Homo sapiens: one gene and its partners. The protein of the gene in region 4 purifies or fractionates together with the protein of the main gene of each other region. This does not show direct contact. Each region holds a gene or a part of one and is shown on either strand. Other genes may lie near its edges. The genes, in order: BCL7B, DIAPH2, MPZL1, TENT4B, RCL1, DDX55 and NNT.

What was found.
Region 1: the proteins of TENT4B (region 4) and BCL7B purify together in Homo sapiens (affinity purification with mass spectrometry, with the first as the bait; one large-scale study listed by BioGRID). This does not show direct contact.
Region 2: the proteins of TENT4B (region 4) and DIAPH2 purify together in Homo sapiens (affinity purification with mass spectrometry, with the first as the bait; one large-scale study listed by BioGRID). This does not show direct contact.
Region 3: the proteins of TENT4B (region 4) and MPZL1 purify together in Homo sapiens (affinity purification with mass spectrometry, with the first as the bait; one large-scale study listed by BioGRID). This does not show direct contact.
Region 5: the proteins of TENT4B (region 4) and RCL1 purify together in Homo sapiens (affinity purification with mass spectrometry, with the first as the bait; one large-scale study listed by BioGRID). This does not show direct contact.
Region 6: the proteins of TENT4B (region 4) and DDX55 purify together in Homo sapiens (co-immunoprecipitation; one large-scale study listed by IntAct). This does not show direct contact.
Region 7: the proteins of TENT4B (region 4) and NNT purify together in Homo sapiens (affinity purification with mass spectrometry, with the first as the bait; one large-scale study listed by BioGRID). This does not show direct contact.

Annotation. Positions count from the first base shown.
Region 1 is NC_000007.14:73,538,274-73,540,690, forward strand, and holds part of BCL7B (B-cell CLL/lymphoma 7 protein family member B), read right to left. Parts: intron 1,780-2,417; coding exon 1,609-1,779; intron 1-1,608. UniProt on the Homo sapiens protein: Positive regulator of apoptosis. Plays a role in the Wnt signaling pathway, negatively regulating the expression of Wnt signaling components CTNNB1 and HMGA1.
Region 2 is NC_000023.11:96,911,842-96,915,341, reverse strand, and holds part of DIAPH2 (protein diaphanous homolog 2), read right to left. Parts: intron 3,015-3,500; coding exon 2,940-3,014; intron 2,860-2,939; coding exon 2,790-2,859; intron 1-2,789. UniProt on the Homo sapiens protein: Could be involved in oogenesis. Involved in the regulation of endosome dynamics.
Region 3 is NC_000001.11:167,759,982-167,763,481, reverse strand, and holds part of MPZL1 (myelin protein zero-like protein 1 isoform a precursor), read right to left. Parts: intron 1-3,500. UniProt on the Homo sapiens protein: Cell surface receptor, which is involved in signal transduction processes. Recruits PTPN11/SHP-2 to the cell membrane and is a putative substrate of PTPN11/SHP-2.
Region 4 is NC_000016.10:50,156,306-50,159,805, reverse strand, and holds part of TENT4B (terminal nucleotidyltransferase 4B), read right to left. Parts: intron 1-3,500. UniProt on the Homo sapiens protein: Terminal nucleotidyltransferase that catalyzes preferentially the transfer of ATP and GTP on RNA 3' poly(A) tail creating a heterogeneous 3' poly(A) tail leading to mRNAs stabilization by protecting mRNAs from active deadenylation.
Region 5 is NC_000009.12:4,799,444-4,802,943, reverse strand, and holds part of RCL1 (RNA 3'-terminal phosphate cyclase-like protein), read right to left. Parts: intron 1-3,500. UniProt on the Homo sapiens protein: As part of the small subunit (SSU) processome, it plays a role in 40S-ribosomal-subunit biogenesis in the early pre-rRNA processing steps at sites A0, A1 and A2 that are required for proper maturation of the 18S RNA.
Region 6 is NC_000012.12:123,615,599-123,619,098, forward strand, and holds part of DDX55 (ATP-dependent RNA helicase DDX55), read left to right. Parts: intron 1-786; exon of another isoform or gene 787-912; coding exon 913-1,005; exon of another isoform or gene 1,006-1,049; intron 1,050-1,111; exon of another isoform or gene 1,112-1,242; intron 1,243-1,713; exon of another isoform or gene 1,714-2,159; coding exon 2,160-2,274; intron 2,275-2,998; coding exon of another isoform or gene 2,999-3,070; coding exon 3,071-3,239; intron 3,240-3,500. UniProt on the Homo sapiens protein: Probable ATP-binding RNA helicase. Has ATPase activity and is involved in the maturation of precursor large subunit rRNAs.
Region 7 is NC_000005.10:43,704,180-43,707,896, forward strand, and holds the end of NNT (NAD(P) transhydrogenase, mitochondrial), read left to right. Parts: intron 1-75; coding exon 76-225; 3' UTR 226-3,217; downstream 3,218-3,717. UniProt on the Homo sapiens protein: The transhydrogenation between NADH and NADP is coupled to respiration and ATP hydrolysis and functions as a proton pump across the membrane. May play a role in reactive oxygen species (ROS) detoxification in the adrenal gland.

The DNA of each region.
Region 1 (2,417 bases), on a different chromosome or scaffold from region 4:
TAGCCCAAACATCACAACTCTAACTCAATCTCCCAGTTTTCTGAGAGTTGCTATGAGGACGAGATGAAGTAATAAAACACAGGAGCTAAGAACAGCACATGCCAAATAGTAAGAACACAATAAATATTAACTACAATTGGCATTTCCCATGGAGAAACAAGTTCCATTTTGTAGTTGGCTGTTAACAGGTCACAGCACAGGAGAAGGTAACAAGGGCCTAAGACACATCTATATATCCATATTATAACAAGAAACCTGGGTCGGGCATGGTGGCTCACACCTATAATCCCAGCTACTCTGGAGGCTGAGGTGGGAGGATCACTTGAAGCCCAGGAGTTCAAGACCAGCCTGGGCAACATAGTGAGACTCCATTTCTACAGAAAATTAAAAGAAAGCCAGGCATGGTGGCAAAGGCTTACAGTCCTACTACTACGGAGTCTGAGGCAAGAGGATCACTTGACCCCAGGAGTTCAAGACTGCAGTGAGCTAGGATTCAGCCACTGCATTCTAGCCTGGGCAACAGAGCAAGACCCTATCTCTTTAAAAAAAAAAAAAAAAAAAAAAAGAAAAGAAAAAAATTTAGCATGTAATGCAGACAGCATAAATGCTGAAAATAGAAGGACTTAAAGTGACATTCATTCCAACAGTTACTAGACTGGCTATGTGATCTCAGACAAGCGATTTAACCTTTCTCTGTTTTTTTTTGAGATGAAGTCTAGCTCTGTCGCCAGGCTGGAGTGCCCTGGTGCGATCTTGGCTCACTGCAACCTCTGCCTCCTGGGTTTAAGTGATTCTCCTGCCTCAGCCTCCCGAGTAGCTGGGATTACAGGCTTGCGCCACCATGCCTGGCTAATTTTTGTATTTTTAGTAGAGATGGGGTTTCACCATGTTGGTCAGGCTGGTCTCTAACTCTTGACCTCAGGTGATCCACCCACTTCGGCCTCCCAAAGTGCTGGGATTACAGGTGTGAGCCACCGCGCCAGGTCTTTTTTTTTTGAGATGGAGTCTCACTCTGTTGCCCAGGCAAGAATACACTGGTGTGATCTCAGCTCACTGTAACCTCTGCTTCTTGGGTTCAAGTGATTCTTCTGCCTCAGCCTCCGGAGTAGCTGGGATTACAGGCACATGCCACCACGCCCAACTAAATTTTTTATGTTTTTAGTAGAGACGGTTTTGCCATGTTGGTCAGGCTGGTCTTGAACTCCTGGCCTCAAGTGACCCGCTCACCTCGACCTCCCAAAGTGCTGGGATTACAGGTGTGAGCCACCATGCCCAGCCCAATTTAACCTTTCTAAGCTTTGAATGTCCATTTTCCTCATCTGTAAAAGAAGACAATAGCTGCCACCTCACAGGATTTTTGAGAGAATTATAGCAGGCGTCAAATACTCAAGTTCCTTCCACACAGCCTGGCACGCAACTCTAATGCTTGTTTTCTCCCTTCCCTCTGTGAAAGGGGAAACTATAATCATTCCTAAGCTATCGAGAAAGGGCTTGGTGCTGCCTGGCTCTGAGGTGCTCTCTCGAGCCTGTTACTCTAAAGACGAGACACAACAAGAGCAGAAAGCAAGGCCCTTCTAGGAAACTCATCCTCGGCCAACCACGACTCACCCTCCAGGATCTCCTGGCCCAGCGTTGGGGGCTGGGAGTCATCCGTGCGGAAGTCGGAGGTGTGTGCTGGGCTCAGGGACTCACTCTGCTGGGGGCTGGGGCTTGAGTTGGTGCTGCTGTCCACCTTAAGCTGATAGACGTCAGACACGGAACTCTGGTTGCTGTTTTCGTCTGAAAACCAAACAGAACAAAGGCAGCAGCTGAGCGTGGTCATTTTCCTCAAGAGGAACTCTGGACAGAGCCAAGGGCCTGGCATCACTTTAGGCAGCCAAGGATACAACTGAGTATAATAATCATTGTGCCCGGCCTACACGACATAGATTCTAAGCACCAGAGGCAGCCAGAATCTTTATGTTTATGCAACATTACACTTTAGGAAGGTCAGGATATGCTTATTAAACTCTTCTTTATTATCCACTGATTGCAGCTTGTGGAAGGGAGGGATGTAGCTGTGTCTCTGGTCAGTACTTCTCAATCCTTCTCACATCATAAGATGTGTAGAAAATGACATTTGTCAGGCATCCTTGGGCATCTGAAGGAGGCTGGTGGTGTCTGAAGGTGGTGAGCTCAGGCTTCGGCTGCCGGACTGACGGATTAGCACCTGGGAGTTCTGCCTGAAGGCTTAAAGTCACCATCAAGGTGCAAAACTTAAGAGTTACCAGGCCGAGGCCAGGCACGGTGGCTCACGCCTGTAATCCCAGCACTTTGGGAGGCCGAGGTGGGCAGATCACAAGGTCAGGACATCGAGACCATCCTGGCTAACACGGTGAAACCCCGTCTCTACTAAAATTACAAAAAATTAGCCGGCT
Region 2 (3,500 bases), on a different chromosome or scaffold from region 4:
GTAGATGATTAAAAGTAATGAATATTAGTGAAAAACACATTTGCAAAACTGAGAGACAATGACCACGCAATTACCAAACTTAATAGCTTTATGAGTCATTGAGACTGAGAGTGAAATCATTAGGTTTTAAAAATTTTACTTAATGTTTATAAGTAGTTTTTAATATATAGAGACACATCAAAAATAAAAAAGAAGACATGAAAAATATATCTGGAAAATCATTAATCCAAACATCAGAGCAATATTATAGTACTGGAAGTTAAGAAACAATGGGTTGCTTTTTATGATCCTATTGTTACATGTATTGGATAAAAGAAAGGAGTTTTTGAAGTAGGTAATCTAAACTCCATGGGGCCAAAAAATTTGATGTGTAAGTCATTTTGGATAAAAGCTTAATTCCTTGATCTGGACAATTTATTCCAACATGAAGTGAAAAGATCACTGCATATTTTCTATTCTGAAGGCATATTTTATGCCTATTGTTTCACATGTCTATAATTCAAAAGATCCATTAATCCATGCTCTGAGCACCTATGTGCAAGACATTAACGTGGCCTAACTAAAAACATCAATTTCGAATAATCTAAGTCAAATCATTATGCTTTCCGAAACTGCCAAACTCTTAAGAAACTAAATGTTGACAAATCAAAGTATGTTCTGTTAAAAAAAAAAAGGGCTCTATAAGAATCTTACTATTATGACTCTCTCTAGTGACTGTCCTGATTAAAATTACTTAGCATCCTGAAAAGCCACGACAATTGACAACATGAGTCAATAAGAATTTAGAACAAAGTGTCCTATAGCTAAATTTACAGATGAGGGGACTGATACTCAGAGAGGTCAAGTAATTTTCCAAAGGCCACACAACTTATTAGGAACAAAGCATGAACTATATATATCTCCTGAATTCTAGAACTGTGTTATCTTTCCATTATGTCATTGTTTCCCTCAATTGACGAAAGAGATCTATCTTGAGCTGTGAAGAAGCAATGCTCATTATTTCCTTGTTGGGCATCAGATTCTGTTTAACTTTGTAGCCAAAGACTAAGAGCCCAGATTTTGAGAAAATCTGTACTAGTAGTGATGGGAATATTTCTGTAAGAAACTTCCAGAAACAGTACAACTAGCATATTCAGGAGTCTCATGTCCACTAGCAAGCATTCATTGCATATGCTCATACAGTAACATTCTTTGCTGATACATGTATGTATAATATATAAATACTTATATGTATTTCCATATGCTTGAGACTGTCTATAGATTAATATATAATCTTATTGCATTGGTTATTAATAGCCATATTTTACATTTGGCAAACTTCTACTTGTTGTTGTAATTATTTCTATTATCTATTTTGAGATTATTAAAATACTATGTAAAGGGAATTAGGTAATTAAGTGAATTAGTCAATAGTATTTTATCTATAGGTATGAAGAGGTCATTTCTAAGACAGTAAAAAAAATAGTTTATAGAAAAAATACTGTAACTTCATAACCTGAGTAAAGTCTATTTTTAGAAGAAAAATTATTGTCTAAAATTCACAGGGTCCCTTATAATACAACTAGTATTATACATATACATAAAAAGCCCTGCAATTTTTCAGAGATGTCTTATATGTATGTAAACTTGCTGACATTAATAAAACATAAAAGAAAGAGAAATCTCAATCTTACAATGTTCTTAGCAAATAAGTCAACCCATCCCTATAATTTTCCTTTTCAATAGAACAGAAATTCTCTGTGTGGAAACATATTCAACAAACGACATTTAAATTTTCCTACTACCATTAAAGAAAAAGCATTATTACCAAAATTGGGAACAACACTAATTCATTTGCATGATTTCAAAAACCCACCAATAAATATTTTGTGAAGCAAAGTATAACTTTCATGTAAGTATTACTTAAATATTATAAGGATTTACATCATAAAGACCCTTTTGTAAACTGAACAAGCACTCACTATTTTGTTCATTTCTTTCTTTTTGTTATGTTTTCTGAACATTTAGTATACTATAAAATCAAAAAGACCTCTGTTCACATGAAAGAAATTATTGGAGGAATAAACAGAATAAGAATCAGACACAGCATTTCTAAATTATAGACAAGAGTCAAATACACTTTTTCCAATCATTTTTTTTGTTTGTTTCATTGACTAGCTCACCCTCCTGAGGAAATTAGCAGCATAGACAATGGAAAGTACTGTTTTATCTATCTTCCCTATATGAAAGCAATATATTTGAATAGAAGAAACATTGGAATAGGGCTCCATTTTTTAAAAGATTTAGATCTACAGAAGTTATATCATCCCTGAAATCCTCTGGATGCTGTGAGGACTTCTTTGGTTAAAATGAAATATCAGCATAGAAATAAAAAAAAAAAAATCGAGAAAACTAACAATAGCTCACATTTTGGAAAATTAAACATCAAATTTATCTTTTATATATGGTTTCAAATGTGTATTTAACCTCACTGTAAAACTTTATAAACACTTATTATTTATAAGCCTGTAATAACTAGTCTACAATTAATTAGTACAGCAGAAACATAAGTAAAAAATAGGTACGGGGTGGGGAAGATGATGAGGGAAAAGAGTTAATGCATGCCGGGTTTATTATTTAGGTTGATGGGTCGATTTGTGCATCAAACCACCATGGCACATGTTCGCCTATATACATGTACCCTGGAAATTAAAAAAAATAATAAAAAAATATTTTGTTCATTTCATACTTTCATAGTGTTGGGCAAGTTCCCACCTTTTGTGACAGGGGCAGAAATAAATACTACTTACCTTATTATTCATAAATGCTTTGAGGCATTGAATAAGTTTATACTGATTCTTCTTGTCAATATTTTCTTGCCTAAATAAAAGAAAAATGTATATTATGTTGTGCTGAAACATTTTCCCTTTGGTGATTTTAATTTCAGTGTTTATTCTTACTGTTTTTTGTCCAGAAGCTTTTCCAGCTCATCCAATAAGAGTCCAAGACCTTCATGGCCAAAGTTGTTAACCCAGCTGAGAAATAAACAAAAAATTAGATGTATAAGTAAGTTAGTAATTTTAAAACATTAAATATCCAAAATAAAATTTTAATTTTCAAATCTGATAATTCTGTCTCAATATTGCTTGTCATTATTTTTTCAATTCCCACTGCTTCAAGTATTGACTCTATGAGGATGACTCAGTGATCTTTGCCTCAATCCTAGACTTCTCCACATTTTAGATTGCCCATTACACAGCACTGCCTTGGTTGTTTCACCAGCATGACATACTTAAGCATGAATTCACAAGCTGAATTCATCTTCCTCTGTCTCCATACCCCTAAGTCAACTTATCTTCCACTCTTTGATACTTTATTAATAACATCACTACCCTTTTAATTCTTCAGACTTGAAATACTGGCATAATTATTTGATGACCCATTTCTTTCACCTTTGCATTTATTCTATTTATTCAGTCAACAAATATTTGTCGAGTGTCTACAAAGTTCCAAGCATGTTC
Region 3 (3,500 bases), on a different chromosome or scaffold from region 4:
GTCACTCAGGCTGGAGTGCAGTGTTGCAACCTCCGCCTCCTGGGTTCAAGCAATTCTCCTGCCTCAGCCTCCCGAGTAGCTGGGATTACAGACACCCACCACGACGCCCAGCTAATTTTTGTATTTTTAGTAGAGACGGGGTTTCACCATGTTGCCCAGGCTGGTCTCGAACTCCTGACCTCAGGTGATTCACCAGCCCCGGCCCCCCCAAAGTGCTGGGATTACAGGCGTGAGCCACCGCACCCAGCCTTCTTCAAGGATTTTCTTAAACCAGATCCCTTCCTCGAGGCCTAGCTGCAAGACTTGTCATCCCGAGACATTATTTAAAGATGGAATTAGACCAAGTGTCCAAGTTTACAGTCACAGAATTTTGAGCAAAAAGACTAACCAAATTCCCAAATGGCTTTTAGGCATCTATTTAAGACACAGATTTCATTATACCAAAGTTAGGTAATAAACAGGTGGCTTTTTAAAAAACACACAACACTCTTTGGCTAATCTGAACGTGTAGCTCTTAGCCAGGATTATGAAATCCAAAGCTAGCCCATCAGCTAGCTCAAGAAAAAGAAAATGATGCCACACACTGAGAAATTAACTTCCTCCCATCCCTGGCTATCTACACTTTTCTCTAATACTACTCTTGTCATCATTTTTGGAGATTTCATCAGTTGTAAGATAAACCTTCTAAAACCCTAGTCTGTTTATCTTCTCCAATAATCTGGGTAAGATCAGGCCTACCCCAGCCACTCATTTCTATGGTCATACCTGTTCAATCAAGTTTAGCCTAAAGCTGCCTCCTTACATATTTTAAGTTCAGCCTAAGGGTTTTTCTGTACACTGTGAACTATAACAAGTGTAGGTGTAAACAGGCCGTAGCCAATCACCTTGGGCCAAGCACCGAGTTTTGGCCAATCAAATGTAGCCAACTGTTCAAATTGTGTTCAAGTAAGGCAAATGCTGAGCTATAATCAATGCAGCTGTTTCTGTACCTCACTCCCGTTTTCTGTACATCACTTTCCTTTTTCTGTCCATAAATCTTCTTCCGCCACGTGGCTGCGCTGGCGTCTCTGAGCCTACCTTGGCTCAGAAGGCTGCCCAATTCGCAGTTCATTCTTTGTTCAGTTAAACTCCTTTAAATTTAATTCAGCTGAAGTTTTTCTTTTATACCCTAAACCAGGGCTTCTCAACCTCAGCACTACTGACAACTGCCACAGACAATCCTTTGTTGTGGGAAACTGTGCTATACCTTGTAGGATGTTGAGCAGCACCCCTGGCCTCTACTAGATGACAGCAGTATCTCCTCTGCCTCCAGTTGTGACAACCAAAAATGTCTCCAGACATTGCAAATGCCTCCTCAGAGGTGAAATCCCCCCAGTTGAGAATCACTAGCTCTAGACCCAATCATCAGTACCTGCACCCACTCCAGAATCGTAGTTTCAGGCTTCTCTACTCCCTAATTGACCACCTCTTAGCTTTCCAATATCCTCCAAAACCCTGAGTTCACTGATCCCTAAGCTGCATCAGAAACTAAAATCCCAGCATGTCTTCATTTGCCTTACTCAGACTAAACCCCATAGGCCACCATTATACTCACCCCCTTGCATACACAATCAGCTCTCTTGCCTCTCCCTTCAGGGCCTTCACCTGGAACCTCTATCCTGGTTAAATTCAATTCTCTATCCACTATGCATCTCCACCAGGGTGGCTGACCACAGCTGGACAAAAGCACACAATCCCACTGACTATTTTCGCCTTAAATGTATGGTCACTAACCTTAAAGGGACTCTTAATGCTGTCTAGCAATCCACCCACATTGCCCTAATCCATCTGCTTTCCATTTCCCTAGAGGACTAGTTTAAACCTTCCTCTCTAACCTCAAATTTCCACTTCCTCTGGTTTCTCACTCCCAGCTAATGACTGAGCTGCTTATTTCACCGAGAAAACAGAAGCAATGAGAAGAGAACCTCCCTATGTCCAGACACCATAGCTACCCACCTCCCTGCATCTGTGCCCATTCTGCTTTCCCTGCACTCCTATGTAGAAAGTGTCTGTCTGCATCCCTCTCCAGGATGAACCTCTCCACTGCACATTGCATCTCATCTCTTGCCTACCTAAGGACATTTATTGATCCAGCAATTCTCCCTCTTCTGAATTTTTCACTCACTACTGAATTACCACCAGCAGCAATATAAACATACATATTTATATTTATATCCCAGGTTTAGAGAAAAAAAACCTTGACCCTGCATCTCCCTGCAGCTCTGGCCCCTTTGTCCTCCTTTATTTTATCAATCTTGAAAGAACTGTCTGTACACACTGTGTCCAATTTCTCTCCTCTTCTGTTCTCTTGGATAAATCCAATTTAGGCTTTCATCTCCGTTACTCCATAGAAACTGTTTTTGTTAAGGAATGCAATGACCTCCATGGTTAATTCTCAAATCTTGTCTTATTGCCCTATCTAAAACCTTTGAAAGTTACTCCCTGCTAAAACCTTTTTTTTTGTTTTTTAACAGTTTGGCTTTTGGAATGCCTCTCCCTCTTGATTCTCTTATCTCATTGACTGCTCCTTCCCTGGTTCTCCTGACCTCTATATGATTAAGAGCCCAGATCATTTCTCTGACTGCGTATCTATTTAACATTCCTTCTCTTGGTGACCTCACTCAGTTTCAAATGCTGATGACACCTGTACACACACACACACACACACACACACACACACACACACACACACACAGCCTATTCAACTTTGCTTGGATGTAATTGGCATCATCTCAAATTTAATATGTCCAAATTAAACTCCTGATTCCCACCCCCCAAACTTCCTTTCCATGGTCTTCTCCAAATCAGTAAATGGTAACACCAGTTTTCTAGTGGCTGAGACCAAAACCCTGGACTGTTTTGTGACTCCTCTCTTTTGCACAACTTTCCTCCAAGCTGTCAGCTACACATGTCATCTCTACTTAGAAACCTATCTAGAGGGGCCGGGTGCGGTGGCTCACGTTTGTAATCCCAGCACTTTGGGAGGCCAAAGTGGGCGGAACACCGAGGTCAGGAGATCAAGACCATCCTGGCTAACATGGTGAAACCCCGTCTCTACTAAAAATACAAAAGAATTAGCTGGTGTGGTGGCGGGCGCCTGTAGTACCAGCTAATCGGAAGGCTGAGGCAGGAGAATGGCGTGAACCCGGGAGGCGGAGCTTGCAGTGAGCTGAGATCACACCACTACACTCTGGGCGGGGTGACAGAGCGAGACTCTGTCTCAAAAAACAAAACAAAACAAAACAAAAGAAACCTATCTAGAAATTGATCTCTCTCTGCCTCATTTGGTGTCACCATCTTGGTCCAAGCCACTGTCATCTTTCACCTGGATTAAGTATTGATAGCTTCCTAATTGGTGTCTGCCTCCTTCAGCCTTCCCCACTTCACAGCAACTAGTCCACAGAGAGGCCAAAGAGATCTCATTAAAATTCAGGTTGGATCATATCACTCTTCTACTCAAA
Region 4 (3,500 bases):
TCTACACTATAGAAAACCTAATGTCTTCTTAAAAGCGCATGTCAGTACCCAAATCAGTAAAATTCAATAACCTGAAGGTTCTAGTTCACTAAGAATTACTGTGGGCTATATCTGCAAATGCACAGAAATTAAATAGAGCACAAATCACTTGGAAAAAGGCCTCTAAATTCTTTCATATTCAATCTACTTTAATCTGTCTGATTGCTTTGGAGCCCAGCAGTAACACCAATCTCATTGGTAACACTGTGTAGAAATAAGCAGAGAGAGGCCGGGCGCGGTGGCTCATGCCTGTAATCCCAGCACTTTGGGCGGCCGAGGCAGGTAGATCACCTGATGTTGGGAGTTTGACACCAGCCTGACCAACATGGAGAAACCCCATCTCTACTAAAGATACAAAATTAGGCATGGTGGCACATGCCTGTAATCCCAGCTACTTGGGAGGCTGAGGCAGGAGAATTGCTTGAACCCGGGAGTCAGAGGTTGCAATGAGCCAAGATCGCGCCACTGCACTCCAACCTGGGCAACACAAGTGAAACTCCGTCTAAAAAAAAAAAAAAAACAGAAAGAGAGAGAGAGGGAGGGAGCGAGAGCGAGAGAGAGAGAGAAAGAGAAGCAGATATAAGCCCTAATGCAGTGCTGAAAAAAGGCATGAACATCTTGGGCTTACTATGACATGATGAACAATGGGCACTAGAGGATGGCACATACAAGAGGATACTGCCCTACGGCAGTGAAGAGCACTACATCTCAGCCCTCCAAATCTCAGCTCCCCACTAGCAGGTCCACCTATACATCCCCCTACTATCTTCTTACCCAAACCAATAGTCCTTCTGGCCCTTATTTCCAAAAACACCACAAATATTTCCCCAGTCACTCAAGTTCAAAGCTACAGTGTGATTATTAAATCCACTTAAGGAATCTGAATCATCTCCATCCTTACCCTGTAATACCTCTCACATTCATTCTCCCTTCACATCCCCATTCCCACCATCCTAGTTTAAGAAATTGTACCTTAAACCCAAGTTTCCCAACAAGGTCTTGATGTCCCCACAGCCAAATTTGTACTCCAAAACATTGTTTTGAACAAGTCATCCAAGCCTTAAAAAAGCATCTACAGATCTGGCAGTACAGCCAACAGAAACCTATCATGAGCTTGGACAAACACCAAGCACCTTCCAGAAGAAGTTTCTGGACCCAGGGCTCAAGACCAAGTTCTGCAAATTCCCTGTATTTGCTACTTCTTGCCATCCCCTCTTTCTCCATAGTGATAAACAATTAAGTCTTTCAAAAGAAAAGGGTTTATGGCTCGTTTTCATGGACAAGCAGCAGCAGGTGGACAGCATCCTAAACCATGGCCAGTTCTGGAGGGGAGCAAAGCCCAAGAGAATCAGTGGAAGCAACTTAAAACATAAAAGGCCAGGCCAGGCATGGTGGCTCATGCCTGTAATCCTGACACTTTGGGAAGCCAAGGTGGGCAGATCACTTGAGGTCAGAAGTTCGAAACCAGTCTGGCCAACATGGTGAGACCCCATCTCTACTAAAAATACAAAAATTACCTGGGCATGGTGGCGGGCGCCTGTAATCCCAGTTACTCGGGAGGCTGAGGCAGGAGAATTGCTCGAACCTGGGAGACGGAGGTTGCAGTGGGCCAAGATTGTGCCACCACACTCCAGCCTGGGCAAGAGAGCAAGACTCCCTCTCATTAATTCATTCATTCATTCATAATTAAATAAATAAATAAGGCCAGGCATGGTGGCTCACACCTGTAATCCCAACATTTTGCTAGGCGGAGGCGGGAGGATCACTTGGACCAGGAGTTGGAGACCTTCATGGGCAACATGACAAGACCCCATCTTTACAAAAAAAACCAAAATGAGCCAGGCATGGTGGCACTCGCCTGTAGTCCCAACTACTCAGGAGGCTGAGGTGGGAAGTTCACTTCAGCCTGGGAGGCCAAGGCTGCTGTGACCCATGATTATGACACTGCACTCCAGCCTGAGCGACAGAGCAAGACCCTGTCTCAAAAAAAATTAAAAAAATAAATTTAGGCCAGGCACAGTGGCTCACACCTGTAATCCCAGCACACTGGGAGGCCAAGGCATGTGGATGGCTTGAGCCCAGGCAAAGGCTGCAGTGAGCCGAGATCACACCACTGCACTCCAGCCTGGGCAACAGAGCGAGACCCTGTCTCCATAAAATTAAATTAAAATTTAAAAATAATAAAACACAAAATAAAAAAATGTTTTAAAAAGCAAACAAAATCCCTGGTCTGTGGGTACATGAAGAAGTCTGAGATGATGAGCTCAAGAGTTTTATTTTGAAGACTTTAGGATGAAATCCAATATCTTACTCTACATATTAAAGAAATGTCCATGTCATGTGTAAGAGGGAACACATAATAAAAGGAAAGTTAAACATAAGTGGGCTATACCAAGAGCATGAAGTGAGTACCTTTGAGAGTTCAGAGGAGAAACCAAAAACATCAAGGACTTAGGCAATGCAAGAGGTCAGCATTCTAAATAAATCAACCAATTTGGTGGAAGCAGAGAACACAAAAGACAGCTGCGAGAGACTATATAGCTGTCCCATGGTTCTAGTCCATTTTCACATGCTTTCTGGTCTCCTCTCCCCATCTGGACTATCAGTTCAGAGGCCAAGAACCACCACAATGTGTTAACCTATTAGCTAACTATCAGTCACATCTTAAGAATTCAGAAAACAATGGTAACAGTTTTAGTATATTTAATCTCAGAACAGCATAACATCGAGGTGCACTCTGAATTCAGATTTTTTTAAATACCTATATTAAAAATAGAAAAACTTTCTAAAGTTAAGAAATAAGGATACTGGCGAGAATGGTGGCTCATGCCTATAATCCCAGCACTCTGTGAGGCCAAGGTGGGAGGACTGCTTGAGGCCGGTTGAAGACCAGCCTAGGCAACAAATGGAGGCCCCATCTCTACAAAAAGTAAAAATAAAAAAATTAGGCAGGTGTGGTGACATGTGCCTGTAGTCCCAGCTACTCCAGGAAGCTAAGGCAGGAGGATCACTTGAGCCCAAGAGTTAGAGGATACAGTGAGCTATGATCACGTCACTCCACTCCAGCCTAGGCAGCAGAGTGAGACCCAGTCTCAAAAGAAAAAAAAGAAATCAGGATAATGAGGCCGGGCACGGTGGCTCATGCCTGTAATCCCAGTCCTTTGGGAGGCCAAGACGGGCAGATCACCTGAGGTCAGGAGTTCGAGACCAGCCTGACCAACATGAAGAAACCCCGTCTCTACTAAAAATAAAAAATTAGCCAGGCGTGGTGGCAAGCGCCTGTAATCCCAGCTACTCGGGAGGCTGAGGCAGCAGAATCGCTTGAACCTGGGAGGCAGAGGTTGCGGTGAGCTGAGATCGAGCCACTGCACTCCAGCCTGGGCAACAAGAGCGAAACTCCGTCTCAAAAAAAAAAAAAAAATCAGAATACATGAATCAAAGCAAGAATTTCTAAGCACCCA
Region 5 (3,500 bases), on a different chromosome or scaffold from region 4:
GAGGCTGAGGCAAGAGGATTGCTTGAGCCCAGGAATTCAAGGTTGCAGTAGGCTAAGGTCGCACCTCTGCACCCCAGCCTGTGCGACAGAGCAAGACCCTGTCTTAAAAAAACAAAACAAAACAAAACTTACCATTTTTTGTAGTTTGTTATGCACTGTGGTTTCAGATGTGCAATAATTTGTCAAATGGTTTATTCCCAAGTATGCTTAAGACAGAATAAAATTTTTTTCTATGTAGTTACCTGCCTTAATAAATATGTAATAAAAATTTAAGTAAACTACTTCCGTATATTTGTAAATAACAAAGTAAAAAAAAATGAACATTTTGTAAACATTGAAAAATGAACATTTTGTGAACAAATGAACATTTCTCATCTCAGGATGAGAATTATGTTTTAAATAAACCTATAATATTTCATCTGGGGAAAAGAAACAGATTTAAGTAAGTAGAGAGACAGATCATGTTCATGGATTAAAACCTCAACATAATAAAGACGACAATTATCCCCAAATGGACATATGGGTGTAATATAATTCTTGTCAAAATATTGGAAAGCTTTTTTGTATATTAGACAAGATTATTCTAAAATTTATATTGAAAGGCAAAGGAACTAGAATAACTAAAATGATTTTGAAAAACAAACTGGGAGGAATCAGTCTAACCAACTTCAAGACTCATTAGACAGCTACAGTAAGTAATCAAGACTGTGTGATATACTGGCCAGGAGCTGTGGCTCACACCTATAATCCCAGCACTTTGAGAGCCCAAGGCGGGTGGATTACTTGGGCTCAGAAGTTCGAGACCAGCCTGGCCAACATGGTGAAACCCCGCCTCTACAAAAATACAAAAAAAAAAAAAAAAAAAAAAATAGCCAGGCGTGGTGGCACACACCTATAATCCCAGATGCTCGGGAGACTGAGACAGGAGAATCGCTGGAACCTGGCAGGCGGAGGCTGCAGTGAGCCAAGATTGCACCACCGCACTCCAGCGGCAACAGAGCGAGATTCCGTCTCAAAAAAAAAGAAAAAAAGACTGTGTCGTGTTGGCAAGAGACAGACATATAAATCAATGGAACAGAATGGAGAACCCAGAAAGAGATCCACACAAAAATGCTGAACTGATTTTGTACAAAGGCACAAAAGCAATTAAATGGAAAAAAGATGCCGTTTCAACAAATGATGCTTGGGCAATTGGCTTTCCATAGGCAAAAAAAAAAAAAAAAAAGAATCGCAACCCAAGTCTCGCACCTAAAGCTAGGCAAAGAGTTCTTAGACTTAACACTAAAAGCACTGCCACAAAAGAAAAAAATCATAAATTCTACATCATTAAAATTAAAATATTTTCCTCTGGAAACCATATTAAGATAATAAGAAGACAAGGTGCACAGTGGGAGAAAATATTAACAAACTACAAATCTGCCAAAAGACTAGCATATATAAAGTAGTCTCAAAAGCAACAGTAGAGGCCAGGCACCGTGGTTCACACCTGTAATACCTTAGGAATTACACCTTGGAAAGGTGAGGCAGAAAGATGGCTTGAGGCCACAAATTCAAGACCAGCCTGGACAACATAGCGAGACTCCATCTCTACAAAAAGTTAAAATATTAGCCGGGCATGATGGTATGTGCCTGTAGTCCCAGCTACTCGGGAGGCTGAGATGAAAGATTTGCTTACGCCCAGGAAGCTGAGGCAGTAGTGAGCCATGATCGTGTCACTGTACTCAAGCCTGGATGAAAAAGCAAGACCCTATCTCAAAAAAACAAAACAAAACAGTTAATACAAACAATCCTATTAGAAATGGACAAAAGACTTGGAAAGATGTTTCACTTAAGACATCATTAGTCATTTGTAATACGCAAATTAAGACCACCCTGGGGCATCACTACATACCTATCAGAATAAAAGTAGTGACAACACCAAATGCTAGAAAGGATGCAGAGAAACTGAATCCCTCATACACTACAGATAGGAATATAAAATGGTACATCCAGGCCAGTGTGGTGGCTCACGCCTGTAATCCCAGCACTCTGGGAGGCCGAGCCAGGAGGATTACTTGAGGTCAGGAGTTGGAGACCAGCCTGGCCAACACAGTGAAACCCCGTCTCTACCAAAAATATAAAAAATTAGCCAGGTGTGGTGGTGCACACCTGTAATCCCAGCTGCTCTGGAGGCTGAGGCAGGAGAATCACTTGAACCTGGGAGGCGGAGGTTGCAGTGAGCCAAGATCACATCACTGCATTCCAGCCTGGAAGTCAGAGCGAGATTCCATCTCAAAAAAAAAAAAAAAAAATACATCCACACTGGAAAACAGGGCAGCAATATCTTAAAAAACTAAACATGCAACTACCATACAACCCTGCAAGAGCACTCCTGGGCATTTATTCCAGAGAAAGGAAGACTATGTTCACATAAAAAAATAAAAAAACCTGGCTGGGCATGGTGGTGCACACCTGTAATCCCAGCACTTTGGGAGGCTGAGGTGGGTGGATCACCTAAGATCAGGAGTTCGAGACCAGCCTGGCCAACGTGCCGAAACCCCGTCTCTACTAAAAATACAAAAATTATCTGGGCATGGTGGTGGGTGCCTGTAATCCCAGCTACTCGGGAAGCTGAGGTGGGAGAATCGCCTGAACCCGGGAGTGGGAGGGTGCAGTGAGCCAAGATCGTGCCACTGCACTCCAGCCTGGGCAACAGAGCTAGACACCATAAAAAATAAAAATAAAAAAAAAAAGAAAAACCTGTCCACAAATTTTTATAGCAGCCTTATTCGAGATAGCCAAAAACTGGAAACAACCTACATGTTTTTCAACAGGTAAATAAAAAGACTTGTGATCTTTTCATACCATGAAATACTACTCAGCAACAAAAGGGAACAAACTTGATAAAAACATCTTAGATAAATCTCCAGAGAATCATGCTGACTGAAAAAAAGCCAGTCCTTATAGTGACTCTAGATAACCTCAGGCTAATCACACACTCCCATGTGGCAGCAACAACCCATATGAACGTCTGCCATATCAACTTTTGATGATAGTCACCATGCCTACCACGGTGACCATGGGTGACAGGGAATCAGGGTTTGATTCCAGAGTCAGAGTCTGAGAAATGGCTACCACATCCAAGGAAGGTAGCAAGCATGCAAATTACCCACTCCCAACCCAGGGAGGTAGTGACAAAAAATAAAAATACAGGACTCATTCAAGGCCCTTCAAGTTTTTTCTTTTTAAAAATTTTTTTAATTTATAATATAAAATTTAAGAAAACAGAAAAAAGCCAATCCAAAGGTTACATACTATATGATTCCATTTATGGAGCAGTCTTCAAATGACAAAATTACAGAAATTAAAGAACAGATTAGAGACTGACAAGGGTTAAGGAAGAAGTGGGGGAAGGAGGAAACTGAGTGTGGCTACAAAAGAGCAACAGACATGAAGAATCCTTGGAGTGACAGAAATGTTCTGTATCTCACTGTATCAATGTCAATATCCTAGTTCTAACA
Region 6 (3,500 bases), on a different chromosome or scaffold from region 4:
CCCAGATTGCCCTGTGCCCGGTCCAGGGAAAGGTTGTGATGACTGTCAAGCAGCAAGGAGCAAATCCATTTGTCCTGTCTGGGTAGAAACTGTCTGTGGCTTAAGGCCGGACACGGTGGCTCACGCCTGTAATCCCAGCACTTTGGGAGGCCGAGGCGGGTGGATCACGAGGTCAGGAGATCAAGACCATCCTGGCTAACGTGGTGAAACCCTGTCTCTACTAAAAACAAAAAATTAGTCGGGCATGGTGGCTGGCGCCTGTAGTCCCAGCTACTCCAGAGGCTGAGGCAGGAGAATGGTGTGAACCCAGGAGGCGGAGCTTGCAGTGAGCCGAGACTGCGCCAGTGCACTCCAGCCTGGGTGACAGAGTGAGACTCCATCTCAAAAACAAACAAACAAAGAAACAAAAAAACAAAAAACTGTCTGTGGCTTATTAGGCTTGTGACTATACAGCAGGCAACTTGTGTCTACCAATGACCATAACTTGTATCTGCTTGTGCTGACAAATAATAGTTTTCTGTTTTTCTTAATCATTGAACATCTGACTATATTAAAAGTCTTCTTTTGGACAAAGTGATATACCTGACTGCTAGGCCTCAGTTATGGAGTGAATTGTCCGTTGTTTTTCAGATGGCTACAAAGGATTAGACCCATACAGTTTTGGTTTTCAAATGGCAGTGCTGTAATTTTTAAAATCCCTTTGCTGTCTCTCACCTCCCTCCAATTTTTATTGGAATTTATGAAGTCCCAGAGATTTGTAGAAAGAAGAAAAAATCAAAATATTACCTTAAACATTTGCTTCTGTGAGAAGCTCCAGCACCTGTGTGTCACTGTCATCGAGATCAGTAGGCTGTTTGATGGTGATGAAGATGGTGGCCTCCTTACTCAGAATGCTTTTTTCTCATTTCCTAGTGGGATTTTAGTGTGCACTGATGTGATGGCCCGGGGAATTGATATTCCTGAAGTCAACTGGGTTTTGCAGTATGACCCTCCCAGCAATGCAAGGTATGGTACGAGGCTGCCACCCACTCTCTGTTGAGGAATTTAGCCTAATAAAGGAGGAATCCCGAAGAAGATAAACAGATAATGATGTTCACTGAAACATTTTATAGCAAGCCTCCAGCGTGCTTGGGTCTGCAGTGACCCCGTGGATTCCTACAGGGCTTGCCAGAACAGTTTTGAAATGGTTTGAGGCCTTGCCGTGCTCCATGTAGAGCAAGGTTATAGAAATTTCAGACAATGAGAGAAAACAAAAAACAACAACATTATTTGAGGCTGGGCGCGGTGGCTCACGCCTGTAATTCCAGCACTTTGGGGAGGCCGAGGCAGGTGAATCGTTTGAGCCCAGGAATTCACCAGCTTGGGCAACAGGACAAAACCCTGTCTCTACAAAAAATATATATACAGATTAGCCAGGCGTGTGTTCCTGTAGTCCCAGCTACTTGAGAGGCTGAGGCAGGAGAATCGCTTGAGCGCAGGAGGCAGAGGTGGCAATGGATTGTGCCACTTCACTCCAGCCTGGGCAACAGTGTGAGACTCTGTCTCAAAACAAAAACCCGTTGTTTTAAGTAGCAAAAATAGGCAAATGGATGAATAACCCATTCATGGTGAAATCGTGATACTGTATTGGTAGCAATTAAAAGTACTTTCAAATATTATCAGTTCTTGCAGAAACACACAATAGAATGTCTAAATGAAAAAAGCAATACATACCACCACATGTGAAAATTACAATTACTTTCTTCAAAGTCAGCATATATTCCTAATACATGCTTCCACGCATAGGAAAATGCCTATAAACCCCCAAGTGTTGATGATTACTCCTGAGGTTATTGGTCATTTTCATTTTATTCTTTGTATTTTTCATTGTTTCCCAGATTTTCCACTGGGGACTATGTCCCACCTGTATGATCAGAGAGAAAGATACAAGTTTTACTTAAGAGTTCACATTAAATGTTTCTTACAGAATCGTATCTGTTTGCAGTGTTGGTTTAATTGCCAGTTCTATTTCTCACACTAGTAAGTGGCCGAGTCCACACTGAGCTGTGGAGGCTAGAGGCTCCCCAGAGCGTTTTAGCTGCAGCAGCCATGTGGCTGGAGCCTGAGCTCTGTTCAGCTGTCATCACCTGGGTACCCATTTCCACCCTGTGTTCTCACAGTGCCTTCGTGCATCGCTGCGGTCGCACAGCTCGCATTGGCCACGGGGGCAGCGCTCTGGTGTTCCTCCTGCCCATGGAAGAGTCATACATCAATTTCCTTGCAATTAACCAAAAAGTAAGCTGCCGTCCGTTTTCAGATAGAATGCCTAGTGACGGGGTAGCTGGAAAAGTTCTCCAGCATGTGGTCAGCAATTGAAATTACGAATTGCAAACTCACTGGGGCTGGGCTGGTGGTGGCAGTGGGGGGCCCTGGTGGGGTTTTTTTTTTTTTTTTTTGAGACGGAGTTTCACTCTTGTTGCCCAGGCTGGAGTGCAATGGCACTATCTCGGTTCACCGCAACCTCCACCTCCCGGGTTCAATGGATTCTCCTGCCTCAGCCTCCCAAGTAGCTGGGATTACAGGCATGCGCCACCCCAGCTAATTTTGTATTTTTAGTAGAGATGGGGTTTCTCCATGTTGGTCAGGCTGGTCTTGAACTCCCGACCTCAGGTGATCCGCCCACCTCGGCCTCCCAAAGTGCTGGGATGACAGGCGTGAGCCACCGTGCCCGGCCACCCTGGTGGGCTTTAAGGCTGTGGAGGCACCTCGGTCATGGAGTGACCAAGTCTCCTGTGTGGTAGCATGCCCTGCTGGGACCCAGGCAAGGGTTACTTCTTGTGAATAGAGACCCAGTGTTGCCATACTTTGCTACCAGATTAGGATTGTCATGTGAAATCTGATTTTTAAATTTTCTTTTAAAAATTTAACATACTTTACAGAGCATGTGAAATATTTGGGTTGGAGTTGGGCTTCAGACCTCAACAGTTGAAAAGGAATTGTTTCGCTTTTGTTTTTCTTGGTTGTGATGGGGAGCCCTGGGGATATGATGCCAGCCAGGGAAGGTGAGAATGTGGTATGTGTGTGTGTGTAGTGCCCCCTGCAGGAGATGAAGCCCCAGAGAAACACAGCGGACCTTCTGCCAAAACTCAAGTCCATGGCCCTGGCTGACAGAGCTGTGTTTGAAAAGGGCATGAAAGCTTTTGTGTCATATGTCCAAGCTTATGCAAAGCATGAATGCAACCTGATTTTCAGATTAAAGGGTAAGTTGGACTTCTTCATGTGATAATGTCTCCATCTTAACTATGTGGTGGTCTTACAAGTATGAGATTGCTTTGTCTCATAAAAGGAAGTGTTCCCAGGTTTTGAGTAGACACAGAATAAACTGGCCACTGGCTGCTGAGTATTCCTTTTAACTTTGTAAAAATGTAATTTTTTTAATTTTTGAGACAGAGTCGCGCTTTGTCACCCAGCCTGGAGCGCAGTGGCGCGATCTCGGCTCACTGTAAGCTCTGCCTCCCAGG
Region 7 (3,717 bases), on a different chromosome or scaffold from region 4:
AGCAATGTTTGTTTGCCTAACATGTCCTAGGTTGGTCTGTTAAATACACTCTCTCATTTAATCTCTGGTTCTCAGGTGATTGTTATGAAGAGGTCTTTGGGTGTTGGCTATGCTGCAGTGGACAATCCAATCTTCTACAAACCTAACACGGCCATGCTTCTAGGTGATGCCAAGAAAACATGTGACGCGCTCCAGGCGAAAGTTAGAGAATCCTATCAGAAGTAAATATTAAGGATCAAGCTGTTAGCTAATAATGCCACCTCTGCAGTTTTGGGAACAGGCAAATAAAGTATCAGTATACATGGTGATGTACATCTGTAGCAAAGCTCTTGGAGAAAATGAAGACTGAAGAAAGCAAAGCAAAAACTGTATAGAGAGATTTTTCAAAAGCAGTAATCCCTCAATTTTAAAAAAGGATTGAAAATTCTAAATGTCTTTCTGTGCATATTTTTTGTGTTAGGAATCAAAAGTATTTTATAAAAGGAGAAAGAACAGCCTCATTTTAGATGTAGTCCTGTTGGATTTTTTATGCCTCCTCAGTAACCAGAAATGTTTTAAAAAACTAAGTGTTTAGGATTTCAAGACAACATTATACATGGCTCTGAAATATCTGACACAATGTAAACATTGCAGGCACCTGCATTTTATGTTTTTTTTTTCAACAAATGTGACTAATTTGAAACTTTTATGAACTTCTGAGCTGTCCCCTTGCAATTCAACCGCAGTTTGAATTAATCATATCAAATCAGTTTTAATTTTTTAAATTGTACTTCAGAGTCTATATTTCAAGGGCACATTTTCTCACTACTATTTTAATACATTAAAGGACTAAATAATCTTTCAGAGATGCTGGAAACAAATCATTTGCTTTATATGTTTCATTAGAATACCAATGAAACATACAACTTGAAAATTAGTAATAGTATTTTTGAAGATCCCATTTCTAATTGGAGATCTCTTTAATTTCGATCAACTTATAATGTGTAGTACTATATTAAGTGCACTTGAGTGGAATTCAACATTTGACTAATAAAATGAGTTCATCATGTTGGCAAGTGATGTGGCAATTATCTCTGGTGACAAAAGAGTAAAATCAAATATTTCTGCCTGTTACAAATATCAAGGAAGACCTGCTACTATGAAATAGATGACATTAATCTGTCTTCACTGTTTATAATACGGATGGATTTTTTTTCAAATCAGTGTGTGTTTTGAGGTCTTATGTAATTGATGACATTTGAGAGAAATGGTGGCTTTTTTTAGCTACCTCTTTGTTCATTTAAGCACCAGTAAAGATCATGTCTTTTTATAGAAGTGTAGATTTTCTTTGTGACTTTGCTATCGTGCCTAAAGCTCTAAATATAGGTGAATGTGTGATGAATACTCAGATTATTTGTCTCTCTATATAATTAGTTTGGTACTAAGTTTCTCAAAAAATTATTAACACATGAAAGACAATCTCTAAACCAGAAAAAGAAGTAGTACAAATTTTGTTACTGTAATGCTCGCGTTTAGTGAGTTTAAAACACACAGTATCTTTTGGTTTTATAATCAGTTTCTATTTTGCTGTGCCTGAGATTAAGATCTGTGTATGTGTGTGTGTGTGTGTGTGCGTTTGTGTGTTAAAGCAGAAAAGACTTTTTTAAAAGTTTTAAGTGATAAATGCAATTTGTTAATTGATCTTAGATCACTAGTAAACTCAGGGCTGAATTATACCATGTATATTCTATTAGAAGAAAGTAAACACCATCTTTATTCCTGCCCTTTTTCTTCTCTCAAAGTAGTTGTAGTTATATCTAGAAAGAAGCAATTTTGATTTCTTGAAAAGGTAGTTCCTGCACTCAGTTTAAACTAAAAATAATCATACTTGGATTTTATTTATTTTTGTCATAGTAAAAATTTTAATTTATATATATTTTTATTTAGTATTATCTTATTCTTTGCTATTTGCCAATCCTTTGTCATCAATTGTGTTAAATGAATTGAAAATTCATGCCCTGTTCATTTTATTTTACTTTATTGGTTAGGATATTTAAAGGATTTTTGTATATATAATTTCTTAAATTAATATTCCAAAAGGTTAGTGGACTTAGATTATAAATTATGGCAAAAATCTAAAAACAACAAAAATGATTTTTATACATTCTATTTCATTATTCCTCTTTTTCCAATAAGTCATACAATTGGTAGATATGACTTATTTTATTTTTGTATTATTCACTATATCTTTATGATATTTAAGTATAAATAATTAAAAAAATTTATTGTACCTTATAGTCTGTCACCAAAAAAAAAAAATTATCTGTAGGTAGTGAAATGCTAATGTTGATTTGTCTTTAAGGGCTTGTTAACTATCCTTTATTTTCTCATTTGTCTTAAATTAGGAGTTTGTGTTTAAATTACTCATCTAAGCAAAAAATGTATATAAATCCCATTACTGGGTATATACCCAAAGGATTATAAATCATGCTGCTATAAAGACACATGCACACGTATGTTTATTGCAGCACTATTCACAATAGCAAAGACTTGGAACCAACCCAAATGTCCATCAATGATAGACTTGATTAAGAAAATGTGCACATATACACCATGGAATACTATGCAGCCATAAAAAAGGATGAGTTCATGTCCTTTGTAGGGACATGGATAAAGCTGGAAACCATCATTCTGAGCAAACTATTGCAAGGACAGAAAACCAAACACTGCATGTTCTCACTCATAGGTGGGAATTGAACAATGAGAACACTTGGACACAAGGTGGGGAACACCACACACCAGGGCCTGTCATGGGGTGGGGGGAGTGGGGAGGGATAGCATTAGGAGATATACCTAATGTAAATGATGAGTTAATGGGTGCAGCACACCAACATGGCACATGTATACATATGTAGCAAACCTGCACGTTGTGCACATGTACCCTAGAACTTAAAGTATAATTAAAAAAAAAAAGAAAACAGAAGCTATTTATAAAGAAGTTATTTGCTGAAATAAATGTGATCTTTCCCATTAAAAAAATAAAGAAATTTTGGGGTAAAAAAACACAATATATTGTATTCTTGAAAAATTCTAAGAGAGTGGATGTGAAGTGTTCTCACCACAAAAGTGATAACTAATTGAGGTAATGCACATATTAATTAGAAAGATTTTGTCATTCCACAATGTATATATACTTAAAAATATGTTATACACAATAAATACATACATTAAAAAATAAGTAAATGTATAAGTTTTTACACATTATATATATGTTTATATTGCTACTCATGTATCTATCTGGACAGTTTTCTGGCATGTAGACTATCATTTTATATTCTCTTTTTTTTCTAGGAATTAGAATAGAGAGGACTAATAGAGACTAATAGTCTCTTCGTGCAGTAGGCTTTTAACCCTTTACTGAGTCAGGAAATATCAGTTAAGTATTTGGTAATGAATTTGGAAAGTGAACCGTTGCCTTTCTGATTCTACCCAAGTCATGACCCTAACTTTTAGATTTTGCTATATTCTCGCATCCAACATAAATATAAAATATATTATATATCAGTAAACTTTAAGGTTTCATAAAATTTATCTGATCCCAAAGGTTGATTCTTTAAAAGTAGTAACTTGTGACTCATATGTTCATCTAACCTAGGGACAAATTTTTTAGTCCCCTAAGGCATAAGTCTTGTGAATTAAAGCATTTTAGTATTGGAAAGCTCTTTTGTGTAACTAGGC